Homo sapiens: one gene and its partner. The protein of the gene in region 2 interacts with the protein of the main gene of each other region in a pairwise test. Each region holds a gene or a part of one and is shown on either strand. Other genes may lie near its edges.

Region 1 (16,419 bases), on a different chromosome or scaffold from region 2:
ATCAGGATTTTAAAAATTCAACACAAACAAAAACATACGCACACACACGTGTATCATCTCATCTACCATCCACCCTTAAATACAAACCAGAATGTAGAAAGAATATGGCAAAACCATTATTTCATAATTAAAACAATTACAAGGTGCAAAAAAAGTTTTAAGTTATTTTTAAGAAAAGAAAAAAGGGTTAAAAAGTGGTACGGTCACACAACAAAGTAACCAAAAATTTACCAGCATACTTCATGTCTAAAAGGTAAAAAAGGTAATTTTACATACACTATAAAATGGACAAACTATGTTACCTTTATTAGGATCTGTTACTCTTCTATTTTATAAAATCTAAAGCCTACAGAAGATAAACTTCTATCTTACACAAAACATTTTTGATAGAAATACCTATGTTTTTTAATAGAGAACTTGTAAAGAAATGATCTCTACCAGCTTCCATATAATCATGAGACGATCAAAAGAGCAGTGTAAGCAGAAGGCACAAATTAAACTGTAATTAGATTCAACAAAATGTGGTGTCAATGATGTATTCAAAATGTAACTATTATAAAGGGTGCATCCTGGAGGAGAAAGCACATTCAAAAATCAACATCCTAAGAAAGCTTTTAATCTCTATTAAATTTACATTTAAATAAATTTTAATTGTGCCAGAAAATTCTATTTATTATAGATAATTAGCATTGCTCTCTGTTTTGAATTTAATGAAAACACTGATAGGCAGGCTTTTTAAATTGAATATAGAAAAACACAAGAATAAATACAGTTTTCAAAAACTTTGAGTTCTTTTTTAATGGTAACTCTGGAAAATGCTTACATTTCTGGCAAACAGTGCCAGTTAATTTGAGGTAATCTGTTGAGTAAGACCAAAAATTCATGGTATTATAAAATTAGCTTAATAAACATTATAGTCATAAACTAGTTTCTCAATTAAAGGGATAAAAGTGTACTTCCTCAAGGGCACTGATAATATTCATCCAATACAGGCCAAGCTTCTGCCAAAGCAGTGTTCTCAACGTTCTGTCCAGGAATTCCCGGAGGTCCCTGAGACCCTACTGAATCTGCCAGGTCAAAACTACTTTCATAAATTTACTAAGCTGTGGCCAGGCGCAGCGGCTCACGCCTGTAATCCCAGCACTTTGGGAAGCCGAGGTGGGTGGATCACTTGAGGTCAGGAGTTCAAGACCAGCCTGACCAACATGGAGAAACCCCATCTCTAAAATTACAAAATTAGCCAGGTGTGGCAGTACATGCTGGTAATCCCAGCTGCTCGGGAGGCTGAGGCAGGAGAATCGCTTGAACCTGGGAGGCAGAGGTTGCAGTGAGCTGAGATAGTGCCACTGTACTCCAGCCTGGGCAACAAGAACAAAACTTCATCTCAAAAAAAAAAAAAAAAATTTACTAAGATGTTATTTGCCTTTTTCATGCTCATTCTCTTACAGTGTAGTTTCCAGGGGCCACATAACTCGTGATATCACAATAGATTTAATGTGAAAACAAACAGGAGAAACCAGCTTTTTCTACTAAGCCACATAGTAAAGAGATTTCCAAAAGCATAAAATAAGACCACTTCCCACTAAATTTTTAAAATTATTCTAGGAAAAGTACAGTTATTTTTCATAAGAAATTTAAAAATGTTAACATGTAATGAGTGTATTATACATATCTCTAATATTTTAATTTCTCAGTTTTAACTTCTAATATTAAAAAACAGATAAAACATACATAAGTAGAAGCTCTATGGGATCTGCAGTAATTTTAAAGAGTTTAAAGAAGACGTAACCAAAAAGTTTTGAGAACTGCTGTGCTAAAGAACCAGACTGCTAACAGAAAAATAATCTAATGAGAATGCAGGACTTAGAGGAAATGCAGAATGACCCTAGATATGAGCAACTCGCCACCCGCCCCCACCCCCTGACCCGATTCCTATATATCATCCCTAACCCGAAATTAACATATTTAAGGAATAAATAAGATTTTAAAGTTCATGAAATTAGTAGTACTAGATGATTAGCCAGACACTGATACAAGACAACAGTCTTTTAGGAAGAAATCTACTTCTTTCTAAAATGCAGAATCCTACACATCTGGTATCTAGATAAACAGTTAAACCCTATAGCTAACTTTAAAAGCAGGGATCCTGGTTTGTGGTCCACAGTAGTTGGGCTATATCTCAGTAAAGCAAAGACCCTTCTTCAACTCAGCAGAATTCCACTACTGGGCTACATTTCAATTGTTCCCAAGACCCACAGAACTAGTCATTTGAGGCTGATAAGAGTTCATACAAAAACAAATGAGTTTAACTGAATTTACCTTCTATTCTACAGTAAACTCCACTACAAAAAAAAAAATGAACATCAAATATGATGACACTGAAGTAAATTAACATTTAAAAGCCTAAATTAAAGCCTACCATAAAGTTAGCTCACAATCATTAATTAAATTCTATTATTTTAGAAACAAAGTAAGTCAGACACAGATAGACAAATGCATGATTCCACTTATATGAGGTACCTAGAATAAGGAAACTCATAGAGACAAAAAGTAGAATAGAGGTTACAGGGGCTATCCTTAGGAGGGAAGGAGTTTAGTGGGCACAGAGTTTTCACTGGAGATGATGAAAAAGTTTTAGGTACAGCTCATGGTGATGGTTACATAACATTGTGAATGTATTTAATGCCAATGAACTACATATTTATAAATGGCTAAAATGACAAATAGATTGTATTTTACCACAATAAACAAACACACAAAATCACCTACCCTATAACATTAATACTTCCAGTTTTACAGTTTTTCTTCCAATAAACAAATATTTCAAAACTGACTTCAGCTAAACACAGACTTCTTAACACAAGCCAGGCAAACAGTAAAAACCTTATTCAGATTTTCAAAAATGTGATGACTGTTCCTTATAATCTCCCTAACTTCCCTACCCACAAATACGTATGCATGTACTTCAACATCAGAGAAATGCTTTAAAAAAAAAAGTTTCTAGGACTGTGACAAATACACGTAATCCAATAATACGATTTTCTGGATATAGGTACTGATTCATTTCAACATAGTTAATAAAGAAAACAGGCTTTCAAGCAAAACTGCCTGGGTTAGAATTCTGGTTTTACTATTTTCTAGCTATTACTCAGATGACTTAGGTCCCCGCTTCCTCAGTGCAAAATTAGAATATCATCTACTTCAGATATTGTTCAAGAATCAAATGAGTTAACACATGGAATGTACTCAGAATAGTACCCTGAAAAGTGAGCATTCAATAAGTATTAGCTATTATATCTATTATTACTCAGAAAAAGCATGAAACCACTGTAATGTATTTCTGAAAAAACTTAATACAATGGAAACTATTTTCTGATTCACGAGAAAATGAAATAACAGATTTTCTGGATATTATAGAAGAACTAAATTAGCCAGTATTTGTTTTCTTTCTTTTTTTTTTTTTTTTTTTTTTTTTTGAGATGGAGTTTTGCTCTTGTCGCCCAGGCTGGAGTGCAATGGTGTGATCTCGGCTCACTGCAACCTCTGTCTCCTGGGTTCAAGTGATTCTCCTGCCTCAGCCTCCTAAGTAGCCAGGACTACAGGTGTATGCCACCACACCCAGCTAATTTTTTCATATTTTTAGTAAAGATGGAGTTTCACCATGTTGGCCAGGCTGATCTTGAACTTCTGACCTCAGGTGATCTTCCTGCCTCAGCCTCCCAAAATGCTGAAATTACAGGTATGAGCCACCATGCCTGGCCCAGTATTTGTTTTCAAGCTACTGTTAGTATGGCTGCAGGGAACCACGATAAATGCTTTTGCACTTCCAGACATCTCTTCCTTCTTTGTTGTATTCTAATACATAAATCTCCTCTACTCTTCATACAAATCTATTATGGCCAGAAATACTTTGTCCTCTCTGTGTTACTAGCAAAGTTTCATATACGTTTGCAGGTGTGTGTTTAAGGGTGAGAGGAGGCAATACATTTCTCCTCTTCTGTGAACTATTTGACATTAAAAGTCCTTCAAATGAGAGTTATCTCTAACACCTTATAATTGTTAAACAGTAACTTATCTACTTATGCAATAAGACCTCTGTAAATTTCCAAGAGTCAATCAGAAATTGTATCATCTAAACCAGGGAATTTCTTTCTAAGAATGAATAATAATTATGCTGGGATAGAAGGTATAAAGTAGGACTCTTCCAGGCAAATCTGGATGTATGGTCACCCTATTTATTTGAAAACAAAACAAAACAAAACAAAAATCTAGTAGCATCCTAAAATATGAGAATAAAATATCATTACTATACTTATCTCATCATATTTTGGACTTTACTTTTAAAAACATTAGAAGTCTAATGTTAAAAAGGCAACATTAAAATACATTTAAATTAATTCTTTAAAAAAATGTTTTTCCATTTTCTTTTGATTATTTTTGAAGAAAGCAAAAAACAAGACAGTTTATCTAAGAAAAATGGAATATCTTTTAAGGCAATACTTTAAAAAGAATCCTGAATCATAGCTTTCTTTCATTAGCTGCTTATGATTCTTAAGGTGATTTAAATTACAACAAACTACGGAACATAGTGTAATCATGTGGTTCTGTGGTAAAGGGTAACTGAAAACCACAGCTTTAAGCATGGCAGCTGGCATATATCTATGCAGCCGTACTGTTATTCAGAGCCAGTGCCCATCCTGATTGAATGTACCAGGTATAAATCCGAAAATCATCTTTGGTGTTATGGATACATAAATATGTCGTTAACTCAATTAGCAAACACATTAGGGAATGCCAAGTACGTACAAGACCACTTGACTAAAACTGTAGGGAAACATAGATAGAAATACATAGCCTGTACGCTCCCCAACAGCTCACATTCTACTAAAAGTAAGGAGCAATTCAGAGAGTCTCAACTTCAAATATTTGGTTTTAATGAACTGGTATCCTGCTCAGCACATATACCAGTTAGGTACTGCTTAAACCAGCATTAGAATTCATTTGAATCTGCACTCATTAAATGTTGACAGAAGAGCATAGAAATGTAAACCAAGAATAAACATAAAAGGAAATCTCGATTTTAAAATATGGAAAGCATGTAGCTGAGAATTAAGTAGAAAAATAGATTAAGCAACAGAAAAATAATTAGCTGCACTCTATAGTATAATGTCATTAATAACCTAAACACTCTTCAAAGATTTGTTATACTTATGAACAAAGGTTACATGAAAAAGAAATGGTCAGGGGTAGTGGTTCATGCCTGTAATGCCAGTACTTTGGGAGGCCGAGGAGGGCAGATTGCTTGAGGTCAGGAGTTCAAGACCAGCCTGGACATGGCGAAACACCATCTCTACAAAAAATACAAAAATGCCGGGTATGGTGGCACACGCCTGTAGTACCAGCTACTCTGAGGCAGGAGGATCGCTTGAGCCTGGGAGGTGGAGGATGCAGTGAGCTGAGACCGCACCACTGCACTCCAGCCTGGGCGAAAGAGTGAGACCCTGTCTCCAAAAAAAAAAAAAAAAAAAAAAAAGTAATTTTATCATTTTGAAAAAAAGTAAACTTCCAGATAATGCTACTGCCTATGTGTAGCAATTACCTCTGTAGCAATATTCTACGGAGTTTCGAATATTCTTATACCAGCTAAGTATTTGTTGTCATTAATTCATACCAACTCTGTCCTACTTACTTTAATAATTAGTACTGAACATACAAAATGTTAGCCATCTGGGGATATACTATATTTGTAAATAAGGAAATCCTTTCATTCTGTCATTTGTGACAACATGCATGAACCTGGAGGACACTGTGCTAAGTGAAATAAGCCAGGCACAGAAAGACAATTACTGCACAATCTCGCTTATATGATCCAACTCATAGAAGCAGAGAGTAAAATGGTGGTTACCAGAGGCTGGGGGCCACGGGTGAGGTAGGGGAGATGATTTTCAAAGGATACAAAAGTTTCAGTAAAATGAGAAAAACAAGTTTTGGAGCTCTACTGTACAGCATGGTGACTATAATTAATAACCGTATATTTCAAAACTGCTAGGAGATTTCAGAATGTTCTCTCCACAAAAAAATGTTAAGTATGTGAGGTGATGAATATATTAACTTGATTTACTACAATGTAGACATAATCAAAACATCACATTGTACCCCATAAACATATACAAGTATTACTGTCAAAAATAAAATTTTTAAAAAGTTTTAAGAATTAAAAAAAGAAAATTATTTCAAATCACTACCTAGTAAAGTTTAAGTAATATTACAAAGGAATCCAACAGAGTACCACAAACATTAATAATTTTTTTAGTATCATTAATCAAATATGTTGAAACATTAATTATTTCTACCTTTTATTTATCTAATTCTTTTTCAGAGGACAAAGGATTCACATAGAAATCACAGAAGTCCTCATTTTGAATCACCTAAGTCCTCTTTCATTTGGTTAATACTCAGCATATTAAAGACACAAGAACCACAAGTCAATCCCAACTAATGAGTCGTTTCTGCTCAATCTATTTGTTGGAACTAGAAATTCACTGAAATTAGAAATACTAATGTTGTCTGGAATAAGGACCTCTAACCTATATTCCAACCTCTTCCTTCCACTATTGTTGAGACAACAGACCCTCTAAAGCCACAAGTCATTTTTTCATATTTTTCTCATACTTTTTGAGAGTAGAGGTGACAGTGGAAGGAAATCAAAGGCACTGAAGATGAAAGACAGAAGCAGTGGCTGACATTTAGAGGCCAAGGATGAATATGTTAGGGAAGGACTATTCAGACCCTGGATTTGGTTCTGTACTCGGATCACAACTGGCACCTTAAAACAAAGACAGCTCTCTTGCAAATAAAAGTGAGTGAGAGTACATGGCTCTCTAGTATAAACTGATTTGATTAATAGGAAGTAAAGCCTAACATACGTCTTTCATGTTGCCCTGATGAGGACAAGCAGCTATTTTTTCATCATTTACTACTAGCTTTCTCCCTGGGAAGAAGTAATTATTATCTCAATCAATCTTGCTAGTTTCATAAAAACTTGGTTAAGGCAGATAAAGGTTAAAAACAAAGTAAGAAAGGCAACCCGATGAAAAATTCAAATAAAAATAAAATTTGGGAATTATTTGTGAGTTTCTTCTCTATCACCACTAACCTGGTTTTTAATTGTAATCAAAAGTAGCTAAAAATATGATCAACATTTACTTTTGTTTAAAAGAAATAAATACCAGGCACCCAGTAGCAGTCTCCTAAAAGGAAACCGGTATACAGAAGAAGACCAGACTGAAATATTAATCAATCTCTTCGCAAGATATAATTTTTTGATCTACTCCCATCCTGAAAGTATCTTTTAATGTTTTTTTCAAAACAAATTAACACTGGTAAAGTTTGTAACTGAGTATGGATTTATACATATTCTATTAGCAACTTAAGTTTGGGGATCATTATCATATTTTTGAATCACAAGATTGGTATCTGTATATTCTTCTTAATTTTAGAACATTGTCTCTTTCCTATATTGAAATAGCAATAAACATATATATATCTGTTTCAGTGTGAATCTGTTGAAGATATTATATCTATTACTTTTAATGAAATGTGATCAAGATATTATTTTAATTGTCAAAAATTTTAAAAAACACTCGCAAGCTATTTTTCTTTCAAAGTCAAATGTCTTATTTACTATTTACCCGGTGGTGGAATCAGAGGTGGAGCAGTGCTGACAGTCGGAGGAGGTGGAAGAAATGGAGGAGGTGGAAGGTGAGTGGGAGGAGCTCCTGGAGGGAAAAACGGAGGTGGTTTGCTAAAATTGTTGTCTACTTCAGTAGCAGATCTTTCAGAAAGGACCTAAAATTAGAGCACAGTTAATTAAACAGATGCATAAATATTATGTAAGATTAATCTTAGTAAATTAATTTCATTTAATCTAAGAAACAAAGTAAAAGGTAGTTTAATTCACATATATGTATTTTTGGGGGGAGAGTAATAGTTCTACATGTGTGATATGTGTATACATACGCCTGTGTGAGTATACACATACATACAGTTTTAAAAATGTGCATATTCAAATCTTAAGAAAAAACAACTGGATCATTACCAAAAATTTCTTAATAAAAAGTAATTAATACAAACACTCCACACAAGAAAAAAGTACTTCATAAAGATCATTTAACAAGTATTATCTTTGTCACCCAACCAAAGTTGAAGTATTCAATTAAGGCAATGTAATCATTAATCACAGACACTGGCCTTAAGAAATTAACATGGCAGCAGGTCAGACATTCACTGTACAAGGGCCTGTCATCACCAGGTTGCAAAGTAAGAAACTGTCAGGCATGTGTCAACAGACTGCAAGCAATAGGCAGCAAGATATGTAAGTAACTTTATCATGTGAGCCTTGTAACTTTAAGACCAGGGTTTATTCTTGAAAAATAAAGCAATGTTTGCAAAATGCTTCTTTGTGTGAACAGGTTAAGGGACAGGCACCATAAGAAGCACCCCAAACCTACTGAAATAAAACAAGCAAAGTGGCACCTCAAAATCTGGATTTTTGATAAGCTCCCCAAGGATGTGTAAATAAATTTGGGAAAGACAGCCAACATAATGTTGTATATTTAATTTATACTTCTCAGATCCTTGCTGACTAAAGCAATCTTTTAAACATACAATCCCTCTTTCCATTAACACTTCCTACATTTAAGTGCAGTGTTTTTTGTAGGGCTTATGCTGATAAGCTATTTCTTAAAGTATTTATTTTGAGAAATCGTGGCATTTTAATGGTAAGGGGAAAGGAAAAATGGACTAACATCTTCCACTATAGAAATGATTTGCCTTTAAAGATGCTAAAAGGAATATTTTACATGATCAACTTATCAAAGGTAAGAATAAAGTGCTCTGGACATTTTTAAAAGGACTCAGAAAATAGGAATAAATAATGAAAAAAAGTATGGCCAAAATGAATAGCTGGAAGTCTCAGTTATTAAAGTTCTAACATTAATTATCCAACTTACTGATAATTTATCTCCCCTCAATTTTTCACCTAAAAACAAAGCAGCTCTACGCCACCTCCAGAAATGTCACATTAAATAAATCATGGTATATTTATCCAATGAAGCTATCATGAAGATATTTTAATCATATTTTAAGAATATGAAAACATACAAATGATAATTTTAGATGGGGAAAAAAGTATACACAGAAATATAATTATAATAGTATCCCAATTTTGCTTAGTATCAAGAGATGTACCAGATGTGGTTATCTTTAGGTGGTAAAATCACTGGTGGTCTTTTATTTTTCATTCAGTAAACCTATATACAAGTTGAGTATTCCTAATCCAAAAATCTGAAATCTGAAATGCTCTAAAATCCGAAACATTTTGAGCATCAACATTTTATCACAAGTGGAAAATTCCACACCCAACCTCACATGTGACGGATCACAATCAAAACTCAGGCCCACTACACAGTTTACTCAGGGTTGCCAAAGGAAAAAAGATTATCATAAATTAACAAATCATTATAACAAATTAAATAACTTATTTATGAAACATAAATTTCATGTTTAGACTTGGGTCTCATCTCTAAGATTACATACGTATGAACATTTCAAAATCCAAACATTTCAAAATCTGATACACTTCTGGTCCCAAGCATTTCAGATAAGAGATACTCAACCTGTACTATGTTTCTACCAAGGAAAAGAAAGAAAACCCTATTAAAAAAAGATTCAGAGATTATAAATTCTAACTGGAAATGCCTTTATAATAAATGACTGGCTTCACATTTTAAATCTCTTTGTATCACCTAAAACACAGCATAGCACTATGACTATCTATTGAATAAATTAAATTATAATGTTGATATCATCCTTCAGTTAAAGAAAATTATTTATTTTAAAATACTAAACCTGTATGTTGCTGTTCTCATTTGCCCGTCGCCTGCCTTCTACTCGGCTGATAGTTATAGTCTGACCGATAACATCAATTGCCCCAGGTAATCTCCTGTAACATAAAAATTGAATCAATTCAGTTTCACCTAATTAGATGCTTAAAAAATAATAAAAGCAGTGAGAAATAAAAACAAAATGTGTTTGCAATAAATTTTAAAATAAAACCAGATCACAATACACATTGAAAAATATCCCTGAGTTTAAGCTCACTACTTTGCATTGTCATAAAAATTTTTATTAATAAACAAGCTAGAACCAACATACCCAACAATGATCATAATGTTAAGTTTTAAGTCTCTGTAGAGCTCTTCTACACTTACTAGTTTTAGTAGTCTCCAAATAAATTTATCTTTGTGAAATTAAATAAGACAGCAAATGCTAGACAAATGGAAATTTTGGGACCACTACAATTGTAACACATACTACAGCTCTATTACAGAAACTTTAAATATTCCCCAAAAAGGCCTGAAAATAATGCTCATTTTAACATACACAAGATATTTTCCTTGTGATATATTCCAAGTGTTAAAAAACATAAAAAAGGAACCAGTTTGCCATTTCTGATAACTTGCATTTAGATAGAAAAATTCAAATATTTAAATACCCGCCTCACCTCTACAATCTTTTTAAAGTTTATAAGGATATGGAAAAATAGTCTATCATAAAACAATGCTATAAATTTAAGAGAAAAACCTAGTAAGTTGTATTTTAAATAAAATAATGTTAAAAGCTATTATGCAGATAAAGGACTTTACAAAAGTATGCATGCCTAAGATGATATAGAAGTCACTTGGAGAAATAGGCAATGAAAAGTGGATGCAAATTAGATGAATTTCTCTTCATCTATATTTCAGTTCTGAACAATACTGCCTTTAAAACTTTATAGAAGCAAAACAATTAAAATACCATAGATCCTTCCACAGTCACTAGATTAGGCTCCTAAAATGACAAATAACAGCAGCTACCATAGGTTGGATGCCAAACCCATTATATCTAAACTTCACAAAAACTGAAAAATTACTGTATACTTGTTAGAGACAAGCCATGGTCCAAAGTGAAATCACTGACACAAGCATGAATTAAATAGCAAAACTAACTTTCAAACCTGAGTCTTTCTAATCCCAAAGACTATAGACCTCCCCTCCCCTTGAGCTAGGTTTCCTTCCAGCAAGACCTTTGAGGAATTTAAGGCTTTTCTGGAAATCATGAGTTAGTAAGAGTTTATCTCAAGTAGACCTTGAAACACTCCACAAATTATTTTGTGCTAACAAAGACAGCCCTATAAAAAGCACATCATGACATCTGAAATGTTTTCAAGTACATAGTCAGTTCCCACTTACCATCCCTTGCCCACTTAAGACTTCCCTTCTCTATAACTTTAGTACAATTTAAAAATGTTCAAGCCTTTCTAATTTTATGCCTGAGTCACTGACTTCCTAGATTTCCTCATGATCCCAAAGATCATGAATGATTTCATTGGAGGATTAACATATCCTCCAATACAGCTGGGGAAAGATCTTAATATTCACATGTTACAAAAATCCAAATATCTCTACAATAAAACAAATATTGCTTCCATTTCTTCCCTATAATTTAAATTGCAAAGCTATGCCTACCATGACTGCATTATCAAAGCACATGCCATCAGCCCTCTGATATACAAACATTTCATATTCCAACATCCTACTAAATACAGGTGTGCATTCTGAGGCTGTAATTTCCTCTCTGTTAATTGCTGCCCTCCATTGTCAAAATTTTTATTTTCGCTCTATTTCCTTTTCTACTATTTTCTCTTGCCAATCACTGGACTCTCTCCTTTGCATTTTTAAATTTATTCCCATCAAGAACAAATTCTACCAAATTTGTTTGGACTTGCAAGTCAGATAGCAAATTCTCCAAATTGTTAAAAGTGGTAAAAATTAGATCTAGATATAACTTTCCTGTTGAGGGGAAAATTTTCTATAGCCTGTCTTTTACCATTTATTTCTGAGGATCTCTAGTTTTCAAAAAGTCTGGGACACATGGAAGTATTCACCTCTTAAAATGTACCTTAAATATGGTCAGAAGTCTAATTAGTTTTTTTCAACTTTAAATTGATTGTTTTTAATCACTAAAGATTCAAAATGGCAAATACTATGTTTCTAAAAACATATAACTGAGAAATCAGCCTTAACAAGTATATATCCCTAAAGGGAGTTCAGAAAATTACAATTCTCCACATTTTCAAAACATCTCCTTGTGCCCGTATTTTTTAACCACATAAACTGATTTACTTTAATCATATAAATTAAGCTTACCGTTTTGTTCCAAAATGTTTTATGATAAGACACACAGTATGTACCACAGCAACAAAAAGCACATAATATCTAACACTGACAAATAATTTAAAAATCTAATATTATTCTGATGCCACATTATGGAAAAAAATATTGAACCATATTATTCCACGAAAGTTCTTAATGGACAGCTTTTTCTTTCATTGCTTAAGAAGATTTAATAGAGTTTCCCTATGAGGAAATCTACTGTAACTTAAGAGTTCCCCAAAGCGTAGGTTTGATTAGGCCAACAAACTTGTTCAGTAAGGTAGACAGCTAATGCTATTATCAAAATCCTCTTCTCCATATTGGACTCAACCATCTAGTAAAAAGCTAAGAAACTAACCACTCTGGGTGTCTGAGTTAATGTACAGTTTAAACAGGCAGTAAATGTTCCCAAGAGCCTCTACCTCCCCTCCTGGCACAGTAAATGAATATAAAAATATCTCTGAAGTTACAATGGAATTAAATTATCATATTTTGATGATTCTGATATCCCAGAAAGAATCTGAGGGCTCCCTGCAGAGATGCAACAGAAAGTTTAAGATGACAAATCAGGGCTAATAGAAGATAGACAAAAGGCCATAAATTGATCTCTGAAGGTCAGGCTCACGCATGTAATGCCAACACTTTGGGAGCCTGAGGCGGGAGGATTACTTAAGCCCAGGAATTCAAGACCAGCCTGGGCAACATGGCGAGACTTTGTGTCTACAAATAATTTAAAATATCAGCTAGGCATAGTAGCACATGCTTGTGGTCCCAGCTATTCAGAGGGCTTAGGTGAGAGGATTGCTTGAGTCCAGGAGATGAAGGATGCAGTAAACTGTGATTGTGCCACTGCACTCCAGACTGGGCAACAAAACAAGAGCCTGTCTCAAAAAAAAAATATATATATATACATATATATATATCTCAGCTGCTTTTTCTTGGAAGCCAAAGCAAAGGACATCATTAACAACAAATGTCTTTAATGTGCATTAAGATTAAAACAAAGCATTTGCTCTAAGATTGTTTTCCTGGTAATGACAGCTAGTATTTATGGAGCACCTACTATGCGCAAGGTAAGCACTGTTCTAAATACTTTATATATATTTAGTCTTCATGATAAACCCATAAGGTAGCAACTCTCATTATTGTCATTTTACAAATGAGAATAAACAGAAAAAGATTCTCCTCTGAGTCTAAGAGAAAATATGAGTACAATAGTTTTTAAACTTTATTGACTACAAAACACAGTAAGAAGTACACTTTACACAGCAATCCAGTACCCACAATACATTAAAAACTAAAAAAGATTCATGAAACAATACTTAAAAAAGGAAAAATGGTGACACTAAGATAAAATGTAATTTTATTAATATTTAAATATAGCATAGGAAAAAAGCAAAAGAAACAATACAAAACCAAGAAATACTGGTTGGGACCACCAAATTGTTTCACAACCCACTAATGGATTGCAATCTCATGTTTTCAAAAATATGGAAATAAAGTCTCCAAAATTCCTACCAAAAAAAATTGAATTTTAAAGAGCTATTTCTCAAAATGCCCTTTAATGCTGAGTGAAGCACAACAATGCCCAATTCAATAAGAGCAATTTAATCAGGGGAAGCAAAACAACGTGGTCTGTGTATCTAGCCCTCTTAATGGTTAGGCTTGATCTAATAATGTAACTGTGCTTTTGAGAACAGTTCAGGTTCTTAACTAGCAACATGGTTCTCTAAAGAAGAATCAGGACGTCCCTGATTTCTAAATAAATAGATATGTATAGATGCAATTTCCAGGCAAAAGTCCAGAGTTTATAGCAAATTTTCAAATTATTTTGCTTGAAATATTGCTTGAATTATTGCTTGAAAGTTTATAACCATATTCTAAAAGAATGGGTGAATCACATATCAATGTAGACATCTATGAATGTTTTCTCACAGAAGGGCTTCTAATAAGAACTGGGCAGCAAACAGTTCAAAGGTCCATTTGCTAAGAAAAAGCCTAGAATGTGGCTATCTCATATTCCCAACTTGAAAAGAGATGCACTTGTTATGACATTTAATTCAGGTCACATATGTAAATAGATGGCTGTAAACAGTTCTGCATGGAAATTGTGTAGCATCTTTTAAGCTACGTTAGGAAAGAGATGAGCCTTAAAAGACATGTAGGATGGGAAGATAGAACATTTCAGATGGAGGGACAACTATGAGCATAGAGAAAAGATGGAGAGGGGTAGATATGTGCACAATTTCTACGTGGCAAATATATTACCTATCCATTTGCTTGCAACAGAAGTATCATGCACCTTTGATAGTGGTTACCAACCAAAAGACATTCAAAGAGGCAGAAAATGTAAATTAAATGAGAAGCACATAAAGAAAAAGACTGTGAGGCTGTAAAATGCTATACAAATATCAGCTCCCATTGTAACTACATCTATCATTTTACTTCAAAACCGTAGGTGCCTAGCTATCATTTGATTTTAATCTTTATGCCAACCCAGAATCAAGGCTCTAAATCAGTGGTTCTCAACCTTGCCTGCATATCAAAATCCTGATGCACAGGGTGTACACCAGACTATTTAAAATTACATTTCTGGGACCCAGCATCAATACTTTTTTGAAGCTTCCTAGGTAATTCCAATATGGTCAAAGTTGAAGACTACAAATCTAAGGGCATGTTCAAGAGACTGCTAGACATTTTGTTCCCTCCAGAAAGAACTTAAAGTAGCTCATAAAAAATTAATATTTATTTCAAGAAAAATTTAAAGTCATATCCATCAACATAAGAATATCATTGATTACATATTTTTCTACAGATCTTTTAGTTTTGTGGTACTTGAGCCCAGGAATTCGAGATCAGCCCGGGCAACATGACTGGTCTGAAATGGTACTGTTTCTATACCTGTGTGTACGTTTTACTTCCACAAGCACAAGAATAATTTTCTCTACAGTATATACACAATTTATAAAGAAAATATATTCTAATGTTCGAGTAACAATTTATTAATGAAAAATCCCGCCCAGAAAAAGAACCTAGTCTAAAATAAAAATCACAGAATTCAAAACACTTTTCTGGACATACAATTTATTTTCTATCAGTACTACATTTAAAGAGACTGATAAAGCCCATGATGAAAGAGGAGATCCGACACTCACTGAGTGTCTGATTTATCTTTTTTTTTTTTTTTTTTTGAGATGGAGTTTCACTCTTGTTGCCCAGGTTGGAGTGCAATGGCACGATCTCAGCTCACCACAACCTCTGCCTCCTGGATTCAAGCAATTCTCCTGCCTCAGCCTCCCGAGCTGGGATTACGGACGCATGCTACCACGCCCAGCTATTTTTTTTTTAATTTTTTTTTTAGTAGAGACAGGGTTTCTCCATGTTGGTCAGGCTGGTTTTTTTTTTTTTTTTTTTTTTTTTTTTGAGACGGAGTCTTCCTCTGTCGTCCAGGCTGGAGTGCAGTGGCGCGATCTCAGCTCACTGCAAGCTCCGCCTCCCGGGTTCACGCCATTCTCCTGCCTCAGCCTCCTGAGTAGCTGGGACTACAGGCGCTCGCCACCGCGCCCGGCTAATTTTTATTGTATTTTTAGTAGAGACGGGGTTGCACCGTGGTCTCGATCTCCTGACCTCGTGATCCACCCGCCTCGGCCTCCCAAAGTGCTGGGATTACAGGCGTGAGCCACCGCGCCTGGCCTGGTCAGGCTGGTCTTGAACTCCCGACCTCAGGTGATCCGCCCACCTCAGCCTCCCAAAGTTCTGGGATTATAGGCGTGAGCCATTGCGCCTGGCTGATTTATCTTTCAAGCCCTGAAATAGGTGCTTTCACAGCTTAGAATTTATTTAATCCTTACAAGTACATCACATTTAAGGTATATGGGGCCGGCATAGTGGCTCACACCTGTAATCTCAGGTGTGATTTGGGAGTAGGCCGAGGCAGGAGAATCACTTGAGTTCAGGAGATCAAGATCAGCCTGAGCAACATAGTGAGACCTCATCTCTACAAAAAATAAAAAATTAGCCGAGCATGGTGGGCATGCCTGTAGTCCCAGCTACTCGGGAGGCTGAGATGGGAGGACTGCTTGAGCCTGGTAGTTCGAGTTTGCAGGGAGCTATGATCCCACCACTACACTCAACCTGGGAAACAGAGTGAGACTCTGTCTTGAAA
Region 2 (16,419 bases):
CCACGAGGAAGGGCATTCATCTATTCATGAGGGATCCACACCCATGACCCAAACACCTCCCACTAGGCCCCACCTCCCAACACCACCACACTGAGGATCAAATTTCAACATGAGATTTGGTGGGGACAAACCATAGCACTAGTTCCTTTACATTCCATATACATTTCATAATGAGCTTATCTATAAGAACAAATCCTGCTTGGATTCTAATTGGAATTTTATTAAGTCTACAGATCAATTTAAAAAGAACATACGTCTTTACTAGGTTGAGCCTTCTTATCTCTCCATTTATTTAGGTTTTCTGGGGTTTCTTTCATTATCATCTCATCATTTTCAGCATCCAGATCACATTTTGTTAGATTTCTAAGCCTTTCATATTTTTGAAGCTACTGTGATATTCTTTAATTTCTAATTGTACATTGCTAAGATATAAAAATGACTTCTGTATGATGACCTTGCACTCTGTGATCTTGTTAAACTCACTTACTAGTTTTAGGAAATTTTCTCATAGACTCCTTAGGATTTTCTGTAGGTTTTTTTGTAGATGTCCTATGTCATGTTAAATTTCCTTCCCTTTCTAGTTTGCTGAGAATTTTATCATGAACTGATGTTGAATTTTGTCAATTTTTTTCTGTATTGATATAATCATGATTTTTCTTCTTCAGACTGTTAATATGGTAGATTACACTGATTGATTTTCAAATATTGAACCAGCCTTGCATTCCAAGGATAGTTTCTTTTTTTGTTATGGTGTATTATTATTCCTTTTATATCCTGCTGGTTTAAATTTGCTAATGTTTTCTTGAGGATTTTTACATTTATGTTCATGAGGGTTATTGGTCTGTAGGTTTCATATTTTGTGTTAACATTGGTTTTGGTATTAGGGCAATGCTTACCTCATATAATGAGTGAGGAAGTGTTCCCTCTTCTTTTCTGAAAGTTGTTTAGAACTGGAGTTTTTTCTTCATTAAATGTGTTGATAGAATTCACCAGTGAAATCATTTAGGGTAGAGATTTACCTTTCAGAAGGTTTTTAAACTATTAATTCAATATCTTTACTAGTTATTGGACCATTCAGGTTATCTATTTCATGTTAGATGAACTGTGGTAATTTGCAGTTTTCAAAAGAATTGGTCCATTTCATGGACCTTCTTTGCTTCTCACTCTATGTATGTACACTCTATGTACATACATAGAGGGAGAAGAAAGAAAATGATAACTCAAGACTGTTTCAGGAATACAGTTGTTTCTTGGTGTCTATGGGGAACTTGTTCCAGGACCCCCGTGGATATTCAAATCCTTGGATGCTAAAGTCCCCCATATAAAATAACGTGGTTTTTACATACAGGCTACACACATCCTCCGACAGACTTTAAATCATCTCTAGATTACTTCTACCTAATACAATGTCAGTGTTATGTAAGTAGCTGCTATACTGTATTGGTGTGTTATTTGTATTGATGTTTATTGTTGTATTGTTATTTTTATTTTCTGATATTTTCAATACATGTAGGTTGTATCTACAGATGTGGAGCCCACAGATACTTGACCGTACTTCAAATTCTTGTCTTCTTCACCAGTCGATTGCTACTATGTCTTTGTTCCAGAGTCCTCAAATAGTTTCTCCCTGTCTACTCTCCAGGATTTATAGCTGCATTCAGTGGGAGACATGAAAGGAGTATGCCTTCTCCATCTTATCTGGAACTGAAGCTAGGTTACCACTATGTCTAATTTTTAAACACAAAATTGGAATCATACTGTACATACTCTGTACTTTTTTTAAAAACTAGCAACATGTCACCAACTTTTTCCAAAGACTGTTAAAAATCTTTCTAAAACATAATTTTTAATGATCATATGTATTGCTACAATTCTGTTGTTTCCAATTTTCTCCCCATTTTAAACGGTGCTGCCATGAACATTTTTTAACATAAATTTCTGTACAAATTTGATTATTTCCTTAGGATAATTTCATCAAAAAAATTTGGTGCCTGGTCTCTGGGTCCAGCTGCTGGGAAGGAGGACACTGCAGTCTCAGCACCCACCAGCTCCTCCTCCTTCCTCCTCCCCCGAGGTGAATGTGCCCTCAGAAGTGCAAGCTGCTGATTAACTATGCTGCATTTTTTATGACGTGAAAGTTCGGAAATGCTCCACGCCAAAAAAAAAAAAAAACAAGAAAAGAAAAAAGGCTGTCATTTTTTGTCCCAGTGCAGACAAAGTGCATTGTTGTAGAAGGAGGTGAAGAGACCTTGGTTGGAGATGTCTAAGTGTAGCCATAAGCGGTCCTTCAAGCATGTGGTGGCAATGTTTCCTGAAAAAGATGTCTCTGTACTTTGTATGAGGCAAGCTTTAAAACCAAGGAATCCAGAAGAGTTGATGGTTTTGTGTGTGTGCGTGTGGGCACCAGAACTAGCACCTCTGAAAAGTAAAATGATCTACATGAGCTCCAGGGAATGCAACCAAAAAGAAATATCAAGGCATAAAACATGAACATCAAGCAAAGGGGCCAGAAGTCCTCCCTTAGGCCTGTCCCACTGGGAAGCCAGGCGGCCTTGGTTGTGGCCTCTGCAGGGTGCCCTGTGTAGATCGTCCTTCAGTGCCACAAACTGAAAGTGCCCGTGTTTACGCTTATCCTCTTGTTGTGTAAATAAAGCAAATACATTTAGGCCAGAGTCTTGCTGAGGGGGAGCTGTCCCATCATCTACACCACACATTCTATAAATATGTGCAAACAGCCTTAAATACATCCGAAGTCTGAAGTGTTATTGGTATGAAATTAAATTCTTACTGGCCACGTGCCTGTTTTCATGAGCTGACTTATAAAGACTTTCGTTAAGCTCAGGATTTGTGATAATACAGTCAATAAAACAGTACAAGGCTGTGTGAAGAGAATTATTACATCTTTGTTAACCTCAGCAGTTACTTTGTTTCTTTTGCTTAGAAAATTCGTCATAATGTGGTTGTAATTTTGGTCCAAATTCTTTATTCTTCCTTGAGCTAAAGAGAATAACGGAATATAATATGTCCTCATCACATATTGACAGCACGAATACACTAACAACAGTAAGACTGAGTCTGGCAGTCTTTTAATTCTACCAAATGTGCAATGGAGATCCTCAGTGACCTTGCAAAGCGTCCTGAAAGGTCCAGGAGGCAGCCCCTGCACCTGCAGTGCCACTGGCTAGTGGGAGACTGCTGAGTGTGCAACCTGCTTCTCGGAAATCGTGGCGTGGCCTCAGGAGAACAAGCAAGATCCTGTAACAACTAATGATAACGCAAATTAGGGCTCAATTGTCACCTGCTTTGTTAACAAAAATGATTAAATGGTCTGTTGACAATCTAGGACACCTGTGGTATCTTTACTTGCGTCTCCTTCAGAACTTTGCTGCTTCTGGAAAAACAAAAAAATTTTAATGCTCTTTGACTTATTCTGCCCTATTTTCCTTCAAAAGGCTTTACCAATTTACACTGCCAAAAAAAGGGCATGGCGGTGCACACTTCCCCACAACCTCAGCATCGGGAGCATCAGATATTAGAGGATTGCTCAGCCAACTTCCCAGGTCAAAACTATTACAGTTACTTTCAAATTGTTGGTGGCATTGAACAACGTTCAAGCTCCTGGCCTCTGGCATTTCTCTGCCTTTCTAGTCCCTGCTCACCTTCCATGAGGTTACCTTTATCTTATGCTTTTCTTATTGCAACTCTTTACGTCACACAATTCTTTAGCTGCAATTCTTTAGTTGCATTTACCATTTAATAGTTTTTAGCTGTGCTAATGTATGAAGGGGAATTTTTTGTCAAGTATTTTATTTGACAGCTTCATTATGAACTTGGTTCTTAGAAAAACCTTTCCCATCCTAACAACAAATAAACTTGTAGCAATTTTTTTGTTTCCTCCTTTTCTTAAATATTTAACTCTTGAGCCCATCTGAGGTTTATTTTAGCAGATGGTGTGAAGAAGGGCCTCTTTTCTCCAAATCAGTCGTTCCAGCACCATCTCTGAACAACTACATGCCCTTGCTGCACTGACTGAAAGCTGCCCCTCCTATGCTAAACGCACATGCACTCTTCTCTGTCTTCAGACTTTTACTACATGTCAGCGTCAGAGTAGGAAGATGGGCCAGGAGAGATGAAGGCCTGAGGGCTGAGGGGCTCTGAGAACAGGCAGACAGCAGGCAAGGAGGACATGAAGAGGGACAGACGCACAGGTGCAGGGGAGAGGCAGACAGCAGGCCAGGAGGACGTGAAGAGGGCCAGACGCACAGGTGCAGGGGAGAATGCGGCAGCTCAGGAGAGGCGCAGCCTGGGGACGGAAAGTGAAGGTGGGTACAACCGCACCAACGACTCCCAGATTCATACCCTCCCTCCCTCAAATCCGACCAACCCTGTGCCCCAACAACTATCGCCATAGGAACTCTTGCAGCCCCGTCTGCCCTGTTCTGGGCCTCCTTGGCCTGAGTAATGATGGTGGTGGTCCCTCAGTCTCCCTGGGGGGGAGTCTGAAGTCGGAACTGCCTCAAGCCCTCACCTGCAAAGCTCCGCCTTCCCCCTCCACTGCCTGCACTGGAGAAAACCACCACATGGTCCTGTCTGACTCACCCCAGCACTCCTCCAAATGTCCTGCTCAGGGTGGCCCCTCCAGGCCATCGCCCACCGAGACCCCAGGCCATGTCCCCACTGCCCAACCAATAGCTGGCCCTGCACATCGGATGGGCATCCTATGTTCAAGACCCACACAGATGTCCACCCTCCCCAGGGCCCTCCCTACCCCGGCCCCCAGCCAGTCCTGGTGGCCCACTCCCTGCGGCTCAGGGCTGGGAGGCACCGTCCTGCTCACGCCAGGCCCCCATCAGCACATCCTGCCTGCTGGCCCTGCTCTGCATCCCCCACACCTGCCCCATGCCAAGCCCTGGCTCCTGCATCCTGACAATAAAGCCATGGTCAGTCCTGGAAGTCTGTGCACCTCCCACACAGAGGGGCCTCCCCTCACACAGAATGTCCCAGGCCTCTCTGCATGCTGGGGCTGGACCACAGCCAGTCCCTGGCCTCCAGTCCCGGCCACACATACCCAGGGGCCTCCAAAACACAGCCCACCTCTTACTCCATCACTCACACACCAGTGGCACTCCCTTCGGTGTCCAGGACGTGGCACAAAGTCCTCAGACACACAGTTCCCTACATCTGGCCTCTGCCTCCCTGATGCAACACAGTCTGGCCAATCCGGCCACTGGGCAGCCCTGGAACACGGCAACACGGTGAACACAGTGGCTACTCCTCTCCCCTCCCTCTGCCCCACGTCCCTCCTGTGTCCCTCTCACCCAATCCAGGGCACAGCCGGACACTCCAGCAGCCAGGCTTCCCCGTATCACCGCCCACACAACCTTGGCCTCACCACAGCCTCACTCCTGCTCTGTCCTCTTTTTGTCCCCGTGGCCGGGGCACCAGCTGTCAACAGATACTTATTGAATGGGCGCTGCTGTTCAGGGCAAAGGCAAATGCCCCTTCAGGGGGTAGGAGTGGAGCCCGTTTCTCCTGTGTGTCATCTTATGGCTCCACAGATGTTATTAATAAGCCAAGTCACAGCATGGACATTGAGTCTATTTACATTTATCTTCTGACAACAAAATTTCAACAGGACTAAAAGCCCAATGCCATCTGTTACCAGGGGAAACCGTTTCCTGGAAAGCAGCAGCCATACTCCACACTCCTTCACCCAGACCCCATCTTTCTGGGTCTCTACACTGAGACAAAGTTTCAGGTTGGGATGCTCCACTACAATGTCCTGTGTCCCAGGATGCTGAGCCCAGGAAGACAGCGCGGGCAGACAGCATCCAGCCACACTCCCGTCAACTTCCCTCCAAGCAGACAGCGTTTGTGCAGGGCATATTCACAGGCAACCAGAAAACAGTCCACTTCCACCCACATGTGAAACTCAGGGTGAGCAACCCTGACAGGACAGGCATATGCTGGCCCTACAGATGCCCAAGTGGCTTCACAGCATCACTGGGGCCAGTCTAAGGCGAGGAGACCCTGGCCAGGGACGAAGGCCCTACTGGCATTAAAGAAACAGCCTTACCTGTTAGGCACAGGATTTTTACAGATCCCCGAGGAGAACACAGTTCATGTAAATCACTCATGAAAATGTTACATGAACTTTGACTTAAATTTCTCATAAAGGCATTTTTTAAATCAGGTGAAAATTCAAGACACTGAGCCAATGTCCACACAAGAAATTAATTAGACCTCACATTAGGGAAAACATCAAAATGAATCACGCACGACCCTTGAGATCCTGAGGTTGGCCCAGCCGAGCCCGTGCTCAGAAGCCCCCCAGCTCCGGCCCCCAGCTGCCCGCACGCCCGCCCTCACCAGCAGGCAGGTCCCCATCCACTCAGACACCAGCACGTCCACCTTCTCGGGCAGCACCACATCCTCCACCTTCTGCTGGTACACGGTGATGATGTCAGCAAAGCCGTTCTGCAGGACCAGCTGCCCCGTGTGCTGTGCCATCTCACTGGCCTCCACCGCGTACACCTGCAGCAGCAGAGGCACCGTCAGCGTACATCCGGCCGGCACACGGCCCGTCATCTACTCTCCTGAGTCACAACCAGCATCACGAGAAATGGTCAATGACACAAGAGGGAAGCAGCATTCCAGACAGCAGAGGCAGCGAGGACTGGCCACACCTGCCCCTCCAGGGGCACCCAGAAAGGAGCCGCCTCTAACCCTCCCAACTGCCCCCACCTCCCGGACAAGACACAGACGCAGGGCTGCAAGTGGATGGAAGACTCGCATGCCCGAGCCGGCTGCCACACGCACAGCAATCTTAATCCATGACCAGCACAGCAACTTCTTAGCACCCAAGTGACAATGCTGGTCTGTGCCACATCTGAGGCCTGTCAGACAATTTCAAACCCAGGTTCTCAGGGAAGGGTCTGGTGGGAAGCACCCAAGCGCTGGGTCCTGGGTCCTGCAGAGCCTGGACTTGGGTGGACACTGTGCTGCGACCCCACCCACTGTGTAAGGAGTCTCCAAGGCTGCAGCTCGGCTCAGCTCAGCACAGTATAGACGGCCTAAGAGGGGTGGGGAGGGGGCCCAGCGTGTGCATCCCTCCCAACCCCATGAGACCAACCACACCCAAGGCCCAGCACAGACATGTGGGTGCACGTGTTTCTCTACTCAACTGAAATAAACGTCTCACAGAACATACCCCGCCCCACGCAATTCACGGGATATTGTCTATTCTGCCCTACTCCCGTCTGTGCTGTCTGCGACTCATTGTACGCGGGCGCCACGGCCTCTAGCACGCGGTCTCCACGCACTGCTATTTTACCGACCCTGAGCCCCACGTGCAGGGTGCTCAACAAGACCATGGAGTCACCGGTGAGCCCCCAACAGCTCAGGGTCACAAGTCAGCACACTCAGAGGCCACCTCGGACGTCACCAGCCTCGGCACAAACACCCGGGATGCGCTCGAGACCCCACTCACCGCTCTAGGCCGCGCATAGTGTGCACAGAAGAGACTGATGATCCCAGTCCCACAGCCCACGTCCAGGATGACTTTATCCGTCAGGGATTCTTTATTCTGCAGGATGACACTGTGGTATTTAGTTGTTCGTGGCTGGTCTGCCAACATCTCCAAGTGGAGTTTCTGGAAGAAATGCACATTCAGAATCACTGCCTGTGACCTAGAGCCATGCTGAGGTCTGGACTGAGATGGAGGGTCAGAGCCACAGCTGATGACCCCTGACCCCAACACCCCTATGGAAGACTATGGAAGGCCTGGACATCACTGTCAACCAAGTTAATCTCATTGGTATTTAGAGAACACTTCACCCACCCCCTTATAACAGTAATAATACACAAAAAATACCTAGGAACAAATTTAACAAGAAAGGTGCACAACCATGTATGACAAAGAGATATTGTCCTTATCTTAAAATACTAAGAGATATTAAACAAAGCTTAAGTAATCAGAGACTGAGAGTCAATGTTATAAAGATGTCAGCTCTCCCAAAATTAACATAAACATTCCATGCAGTACCTACTAAAGGAGAAAGCACAACAAAATGATAATAAAATTAGTTTCAAAACAGTAAGTGCCCAAGGCTAATGAGGAAAATGCTTTAAAAAAAAAAGAACTGCTGGAGACCTAGCTCTTGCAGATCCTACAAAGGTGCAGTGATGGAAATGACGAAGCACTGGGAACTGCAGTAAACAGACCAGTGAAACAACAGGAATTCTACAGCAGACCCCTGAAATCCAGAGCAGGACAAACGCACCGTTTCACATCAACGCGAAGGGAACTGTCCAGTAACTGAGGCTGGGGTCGCTGGAGATTTGTGGGCATACATTAGGGCGGAATTTTACATTATATTTTTTACAACAAATAATTTCTAGATTTTTTATTATTTAAAATCTCATTGTTTAAAATAGAATCAGAAGGCCAGGCAGGGTGCCTCACCCCTGTAATCCCAGTACTTTGGGAAGCTAAGGTGAAGGTCCCTTAAACCCAGGAGTTTGAGGATACAGTGCACTATGACTGCACCACCGCACTCCAGCCACTCATACGACAGAGTGTGACACCATCTCTAAAAAACATAAAAAACAAAAATAAAATAACACAGAATCATAACAGTTCTGAAAACAAAAGTGTGGGTATTTATAATCTTATAGTGAGGAAGGTTTTTCACAAAGAAAAGAAAAAGAAGTCACAAAGAAAAGAAAACCATATTAGGCTATACAAAGAAAAAAGTTGTACGTGGGAAAAAATTTCACAAAGTCACAAAACTTCACAAATTCAGGCTAAATTACTTAACACACGAATCAACAAAAATCAAAAGGGGCAAATAATATGAAAGTTTACAAAAAAAGAAAAAATACAAAAGGCCCATAAACACATAAAAGATAATCAATCTTACTTAAAAAATGGAAATCAAAACTAAAAGATGCCATATTTAACTTTTAAGATCAAAGTCCTTTTTCACTTTGATTTGTGGTAGGGAAATGAGCTTTCACACACCATCATGCCACGGTCTGAAATGTCTCCAAAAATCCATGTACTGAAACTTAATCGTCAGTGTGATGGCATTAAGAGGCCACCTTTGGAGGTTACTATGAAAGGGTTTGTGGTGAAAGAGGTGCTCCCAGCCCTCCCGCCTTCACCACGTGAGGACAGCCATGAGGCGCCATCTTGGACACCAATGCCAATGCCTTCCCAGCCTCCAGAACTGCGAGAAACAAAGCTTTGTTCTTCATAATTCACTCAGTCTAAGGTATTTTGTTACAGCAGCACAAACAGACCAAGTGTATAATTAGCAAATCTTTCTGGAGGGCGAACTGGCAAGATCCACTTAAGGAAACCACATGTACACACTACACACACACACCCCGTAGGAATTTACCCTATAGAAATTCTAAACAGCATTTAACAGGATTATACAGGACTCCATTACAGCATTATTTATCATGATAAAAAGCTATTAAATAACCACTGTCCAAATATCAACAGGACCCTTTTAAAGTAACACAACGCTCTGCAGCTGTTATAAAGAGTGACAGGTGCCAATATGAGAGATCTTCAAAATACTACAGCTACGTGAAAAGAGCAAGGTGAAGACCTGAGTGGTGGAACAATGCCTTTTCTATACATTAAAAACGTAAAATACATTAGGTGTCACTTGGACTTCATAAGCACAGAGGAATCTGGTGGGCAGTGGTTCTTTGAGCTGAGAGGCGGCAGAGGTGGGAGGCTGGAATTGGCTTTTCATTATGTATCTTTCCTTAACGGATAGAAATCACTAACCATGTACAGACATGAATAGTTTTTAACACTTTTAATTGTGAAATATGGCATACCTGCGAAAAAGTGCAATAAAAAGTATCTGCAGAGTTAGTCAAGTATTGTTATATAGCAAACACCTCTATACCTATATCCAACCCCAGAACACTGCCAGCATGTCAGAACTCCTGACTCAGCCACGCTGGTCCCAGAGCCTCCCCTACCAGCAGGTAACCTCCATTCAACCAACAGGGGAGCCACTCCTGCCCTCAGTCAGTCTCAGCACCCATGCACACTCACAAACAGTACCTTCCGGCCGGGCGCAATGGTTCATGCCTGTAATCCCAGCCCTTTGGGAGGCTGAGACAGGAGGATCACTTGAGGCCAGGAGTTCAAGACCAGTCTGGCCAACATGGCAAAACCCCCTCATTAAAAATACAAAAATTAGCCAGGCATGGTGGCACGCACCTGTAGTCCCAGGTACACAGGAGGCTGTGGCAGGAGAATTGCTTGAACCCGGGAGGCAGAGGCTGCAGTGAACTAGGATCCTGCCACCACACTCCAGTCTGGGTGACAGAGCAAGACTACGTCTCAAAAAAAAAAAAACAAAAACAAACAAAAAACCTTCTAATATGGCCTCTTAACTTTATATAATTGAGTCAAACGTTATAGATTCTTTGCCCTATTCCTTCTTTCAACTAACATCATTTTTATAACATTCATCCTGCAAGTAACTGTTTTCATCTAGTTTTAAAATGTAACCAGAGATTGTTGCCTGGACCATCGGGTTATAGGCATTTCTCCATGGTGGGGAAAAAATTTCGGTAAGCTATTTAGAAGCTGGGCTTTTATTATTTTTTTAGGGACAGAGTCTGGTTCAATCACCCAGGCTGGAGTGCAGTAGCGCAATCATAGCTCACCACAGACTTGAACTCCTGGCTTCAAGTGATGCTCTGACCTCAGCTTCCCAAAGTCCTGTGATTACAGGCATGAGCCACCACACCTGACCTAAGTAGTATTATTCATAGATTTATAGAATTTTTTCTATTTTTTTTTTTTTTGAGACAGGCTCTCGCTCTGTAGCCCAGGCTGAAGTGCAACAGCGCCATCATGGCTCACTGCAGCCTTGGCCTCCAAGGCTTGAGCAATCCTCCCACTTCAGCCTCTCGAGTAGCTGGGACTACAGGCGTGCACCACCATGCCCAGCTAATTATATTTTTTTTTAATTTTTTTTTTGTAGAGACGAATTATATTTTTTATTTTTTCTCACTATGTTGTCAGGCTGGTCTTGAACACTTGGTCTCAAGCCAAGTGTCCTCTTGCCTTGGCCTCCCAAAGTGTAGGGATTACAGGTGTCAGCCACCACACTCAGCCTAATTTCATTTTTAAAGTAAAATTTACTGCTTTTTTTTTAAATACTGAGGGAGCACGCACATAATCTCATTGCTCAAATCATATCTCTAAGCCAGGGGTCGGCAAACTAAGCCATGGGCCAAATCTAGCCCACCACCTGTTTTTGGATGGCCTCCAAACTAACAGTGGGTTTTACATTTTTAAATGATTTTTTTAAATCAAAAGAAAATACTTTGTGACACATGAAAACTGTACAGTATAAATTCAAATTTCAAGATCCATAAATAAAGTTTTATTGGAACACAACAGTGCACACTTTGTGTGTCATCCACAGTGGCTTCCACACAACCATGTCAGAGCTGAGTGGCTACAACAGAGGAGCTCTGGCCTGTAAGACTATGGGCCTGCTCTGAACGTTGCAGTAGAACTAAAGCTAGAGAGAACCCACCGCCTGGCCAGCTGAACAGGGAATTTAGAAAGCAATACCAGAGTTCCATAGCTGCCGAAGTACTCTTCATCCTGCCACGTGTCCTCGGGGTCGTACTCATCCACGTGCTTCCCCACATGGTTTGCCGGAATGTACCCACAGCAGCCCGCACGCTCACCCCACCACCAATCTGCAGTGGTTTGTCTCAGGATAAGAATTTTTTCTCCTCTCAAAAAACTGAGCTGGAAAAAAAAAAGTTAAAATTCAATAAGAAAACCAGTCATTGGTATTTCAAATGTGGCTCAGTGATAAATCCCATCAATGGTGACAAAATCACAGAGATTTCAAACAGGAGTCAGTGGGTAATGACAGCAACTGAGAATGTTTGCAAGTGACACCATGACTTAGCGATGCCTCTGGAACATCTACCTGAAAGGAGGGCACAGCTTAACAGATATTTTTTAAAAGAAGGAGTAAACATTTTCAAATGGCTTAGGAGAGAATTTCTCAACAGCCTCTTCATTGTAACTCAACTATGCCAACTGAGTTACTGGAGGCTGACTCTAAGAAATTCCTGTCACAAAGTAAACAAAGCTATGTCCAAGCAGATATAGCTTGATATATTTGGTAGCCTTACTTTTCATTAACTGGGTGGGTTCTACATTCCAAGTAGAAACCAGAACAGGTGCTTCTGCCCCTGGCTGAGGGTCCCCACTCCATGCCTCGTATCTTTACATCATGCTTGAGGCAGAACTGGCTGGGCTGTGAGCTTCACACACAGGTCTTGTGTGGCCCTACGCATCTGAATACCTCTTCATTTAACTTTGGTGTGACGTCTGCAAAATTTATCTCCTTTTGACACTGAACATGCTGAAAGCCATAAAGCATTAACCACCACGTGTGGCTACCTGGGTCTCATCGGTGGCAGCGTAGTCCGCGATGGCCACAAACTCCTCTGGCTGTACTCCCTCCTGCAGGAGACCGGCCTCACTGCACTCAGCAGGCTCTTCTCCCTGCTCAAAGCCAAGGAAAGCGTGAGGAGAGGACGCTGGAGCTTTTTTTTTTTTTTTTTGGCTATATTATTAGGATGGTTTCAAATTTCAAATACAGATTCATGTGTCCAAGTATTTATTATACAAACTATTTGGATCATCTTTACTACTATAATCAAAGGCTGTCACCTTCACTCTACATTTCTTTTCTAAAAAAAAAAATTATCTGGACCCTAAAAGAGAACATCAAAGCAAGAAGTCAGAAACAGGCACCACTAGTGTCTATTTGGTGAGGAGCCCTTGTCCTTCATCAGCTTTGCTTCCTGAAGGTGATCATCAACCCCATGAAGAGAAACCAGTGTGAGGACAGAGCCAGGGGCCCAGCGCCCCAGGCAGGCACAGCCAGGGGCCTGTGGAAAGAGCTGATGGCATGGCACAAACCTCCACGAGGCAGCAGAGCCCAGCTTGGACCCACACAGGTCCTTGGAGCCTCCCCCAACCCCTCCATTTTTTTTTTTTTTTTTTTTTTGAGACAGAGTCTTGCTCTGTTGCCCAGGCTGGAGGGCAATGGCATGATCTCGGCTCAGGGCAACCTCTGCCGCCTCCCAGGTTCAAGTGATTCTGATGCCTCAGCCTCCCAAGTAGCTGGGACAACAGGTGTGCACCACTACACCCAGCTAATTTTTTGTATTTTTAGTAGAGATGGGGTTTCACCATGTTGCCCAGGTTGGCCTCGAAATCCTCAGCTCAGGCAATCCACCTGCCTCATCCTCCCAAAGTGCTAGGACTACAGGCATGAGCCACCATGCCTGGCCGTTCACTTTATATAAGAATAAGCTTGCCTGGAAGACATCACTGCAGGGGGCAGAACCTCAGATCACACACTCCAGTTCAATGAATCAACCTTGTCTCAATACATACATTTTAAACACATTTTCCTAAACATAAAAGTAATTCGTGTTTACTTTAGAAAATGTGTGAAAACACCAAGTACACAGAAGAAAATTAAAACCTCCTGTAATTTTGCTCACTGATCACAGATAATAACAGACAGCACATTGGTGTTTATACTTTCAGACTTTTAAAAAAGTGGACACGTAACATAAGTACAAAGCATTCACTGGGTTCACACAATAAGCCTGTGGCCTATGGTTTTCACTTTATAAACTCTGAACATTTTTCTTATTAAATATACTTCTAACACTATTTAATATCCAGTCTATGAATTATCAGGACTTACCTATCCAGTTTCCTAGTCTTGTACATTTAGACTTTTCAGTTTTTACTATTCTAAATCATGTTAAGATGAACTTCTTTCAACATAAATCATTCTGTATGTACCTTAATCTTCTTAGGGTAAGTCTCTGAATGTGAACCTGATGGACTGAGACTATGTGGCTTTTGGTTTTACCACCCAGTGCTCTCCAGAAAGGTGTTCCCTGGACCGCTTGCTGAGAGGGAACCACCAATCTTCCCACACTCTCACTCAATAGATACCAATCACTTTAGTCTCTGTCAATTTCATGGGTAAAAATCACTGTTGTTACTTCCATTTCCCTCTCTTTGTGTGGTTAGGCGTTTTTAAAATACTTGCTGGCATCTTTTTTTACCTTACTGTCTATTTGTACCCTTCGTGCTTTTCCCTATGCCAGGAGCATGACTCACTCTAAGGCAGCACTGCCCTCTGCTTGCTCTCCACCCCATCCCCGATCCACCCAGCCCAGGCAACCCTTACTAACCCCCCGGTGTGCGGCCTTCCACACCTCCACCATGCCCATGTCACACACAAAGCCCTGTGTACACGTATACACACACACACACACACACACACACACAGGCTGTTTCTTTGTTTGGCTTTTTTTTTAGGATGGAGTCTCGCTCTGTCGCCTAGGCTGGAGTGCAGTGGCACAATCTCGGCTCACTGCAACCTCCACCTCCCCAGTTCAAGCAATTCGCATGCCTCAGCCTCCCGAGAGGCTGGGACTACAGGCGTGTGTCACTACGCCCGGCTAATTTTTGCATTTTTGGTAGAAATGGATGGGGTTTCATCATGTTGGCCAGGCTGGTCTCGAACTCCCCACTTCAAGTGATCTGCCCACCTGAGCTTCCCAAAGTGCTGGCATCACAGGCGTGGGCCACCACGCCTGACCTGCACTTTGCTTTTCTTACACAATACCTTCTGGAAAAACTCTCCAACTGTTAGAACCCTGATTTACTACCTTCAATGGCTATACGATATTCCATAGCAGGAATTCCGCTTGATTCTTCAGCCATCCCCCTTTGATAGACTTTGTCTTGGTATCCAGTTTTCTACCACCATAACCGATGCTGCAATAAAAGAAGTCTGTGCACAGACAAGCTTATGTGATGACATTTTATTTCTGCAGGATAGAATGCCAGGGTTGAAGAATACGCTTTTTTTTTTTTTTTTTGAGATGAGGTCACCCTCTGTCACCCAGGCTAGAGTGCAGTGGCATGATCCTGGCTCATGGCAACCTCCACCTCCCAAGCTAAAGCAATCCTCCTACCTCAGCCTCTCAAGTAGCTGGGACTACTCTTGGTACAATATAGATACTATTTCACATCTCAAGAAATTGTTTTACAAACATATTGTTTTCCCAGTTATCTTGTTTATGATCAGCGCCTCAAGAGTCAGGTCAACAGAAATTTTCCAAACTGAAGCACAAAATGAAAAAAAAAATAAGAATAGAGCATGAGACATGTCAAACAGCAGCAAAAATTCTAACTTATGTTTACATGGAGACCCCAAAAAAGAAGACAGAAGATGAGGCAGAAAAAAATAAATGAAGAGATAATGGTGGAGATTTTTCCAAAATTAAAAAAAAAAAACCATCAAGGCCAAGGTGGGCAGATCACCTGAGATCAGAAGTTTGAGACCAGCCTGGCCAAGATGGTGAAACCCCGTCTCTACTAAAAATACAAAAAATTAGCCGGGCGTGGTGGTGGTCACCTGTAGTCCCAGCTACTCGGGAGGCTGAGGCAGGAGAATGGTGTGAACCCAGGAGGCGGAGCTTGCAGTGAGCCGAGATCGCATCACTGCACTCCAGCCTGGGCGACAGAGCGAGACTCCGTCTCAAAAAAAAAAAAAAAAAAAAATGTAGGCAAAACACATTTCATAGTTTGACACAGCAGACTCACACTAGTAAATATAAACATAAAGTTGTCAGGTTGAAGGGAAATGATCCTACATGAAAACACAGAATGCAAGAAAAAGGGAAAGACCTCAAAAAAGGCAAATAATATGTGGGGAAACATAAAAAAGACTATTTATTTTACTTCATAAAAAAAGACTCGATAGCGTAAAGCAATAATGATAATTTATTGTGGCGTTTACAACATATGTAAAATTAAAATGTTACATCAACAGTACAAAAATATGGACGCTGGTAAATGAAACTAACTTCTAAGATCTTTACCTTATGAAGTAGTTAAAAAAAAGACTGAAATTGAATTAGGATGCATACTGCAATTTCTTGGGAAAACACTAAAACAATATAAAAAGATACAGCTAACAAGCTATTAAAGGAGGTAATATGGAATTATAGAAAATCCTTTATTTATCCACAAGAGGGCAGGAATGGAGACATGCAGGAAAAAGAAATGTGACAAACATAAAACAAACAGCAAAATGTTACACTTCATCACATTCGTCATAACATGAAGTGTTAATAGACTAAATACTCCAATTAAGAGGCAGAAATTGTGTTTAACAGAGAAACAAAAAAACAGACCTAAGAGCTAGACCCAACTAGCTCTTTACGAGAAAAACGCTTTAAATATAAGGACTTAAGTTGAGGGAAAAAAAATACACACACACACACACACAAACACACACACACACACAC

The links.
Region 1: the proteins of PRMT2 (region 2) and FIP1L1 interact in a two-hybrid assay, tested with the Homo sapiens proteins (2 studies listed by BioGRID and IntAct).

What each region holds. Positions count from the first base shown.
Region 1 is NC_000004.12:53,419,456-53,435,874, reverse strand, and holds part of FIP1L1 (pre-mRNA 3'-end-processing factor FIP1), read right to left. Parts: intron 10,004-16,419; coding exon 9,910-10,003; intron 7,849-9,909; coding exon 7,692-7,848; intron 1-7,691.
Region 2 is NC_000021.9:46,639,690-46,656,108, reverse strand, and holds part of PRMT2 (protein arginine N-methyltransferase 2), read right to left. Parts: intron 12,575-16,419; coding exon 12,470-12,574; intron 11,804-12,469; coding exon 11,621-11,803; intron 7,652-11,620; coding exon 7,490-7,651; intron 6,535-7,489; coding exon 6,370-6,534; intron 4,304-6,369; coding exon of another isoform or gene 4,103-4,303; exon of another isoform or gene 3,265-4,102; coding exon of another isoform or gene 3,055-3,264; exon of another isoform or gene 1,012-3,054; intron 1-1,011. UniProt on the Homo sapiens protein: Arginine methyltransferase that methylates the guanidino nitrogens of arginyl residues in proteins such as STAT3, FBL, histone H4. Acts as a coactivator (with NCOA2) of the androgen receptor (AR)-mediated transactivation.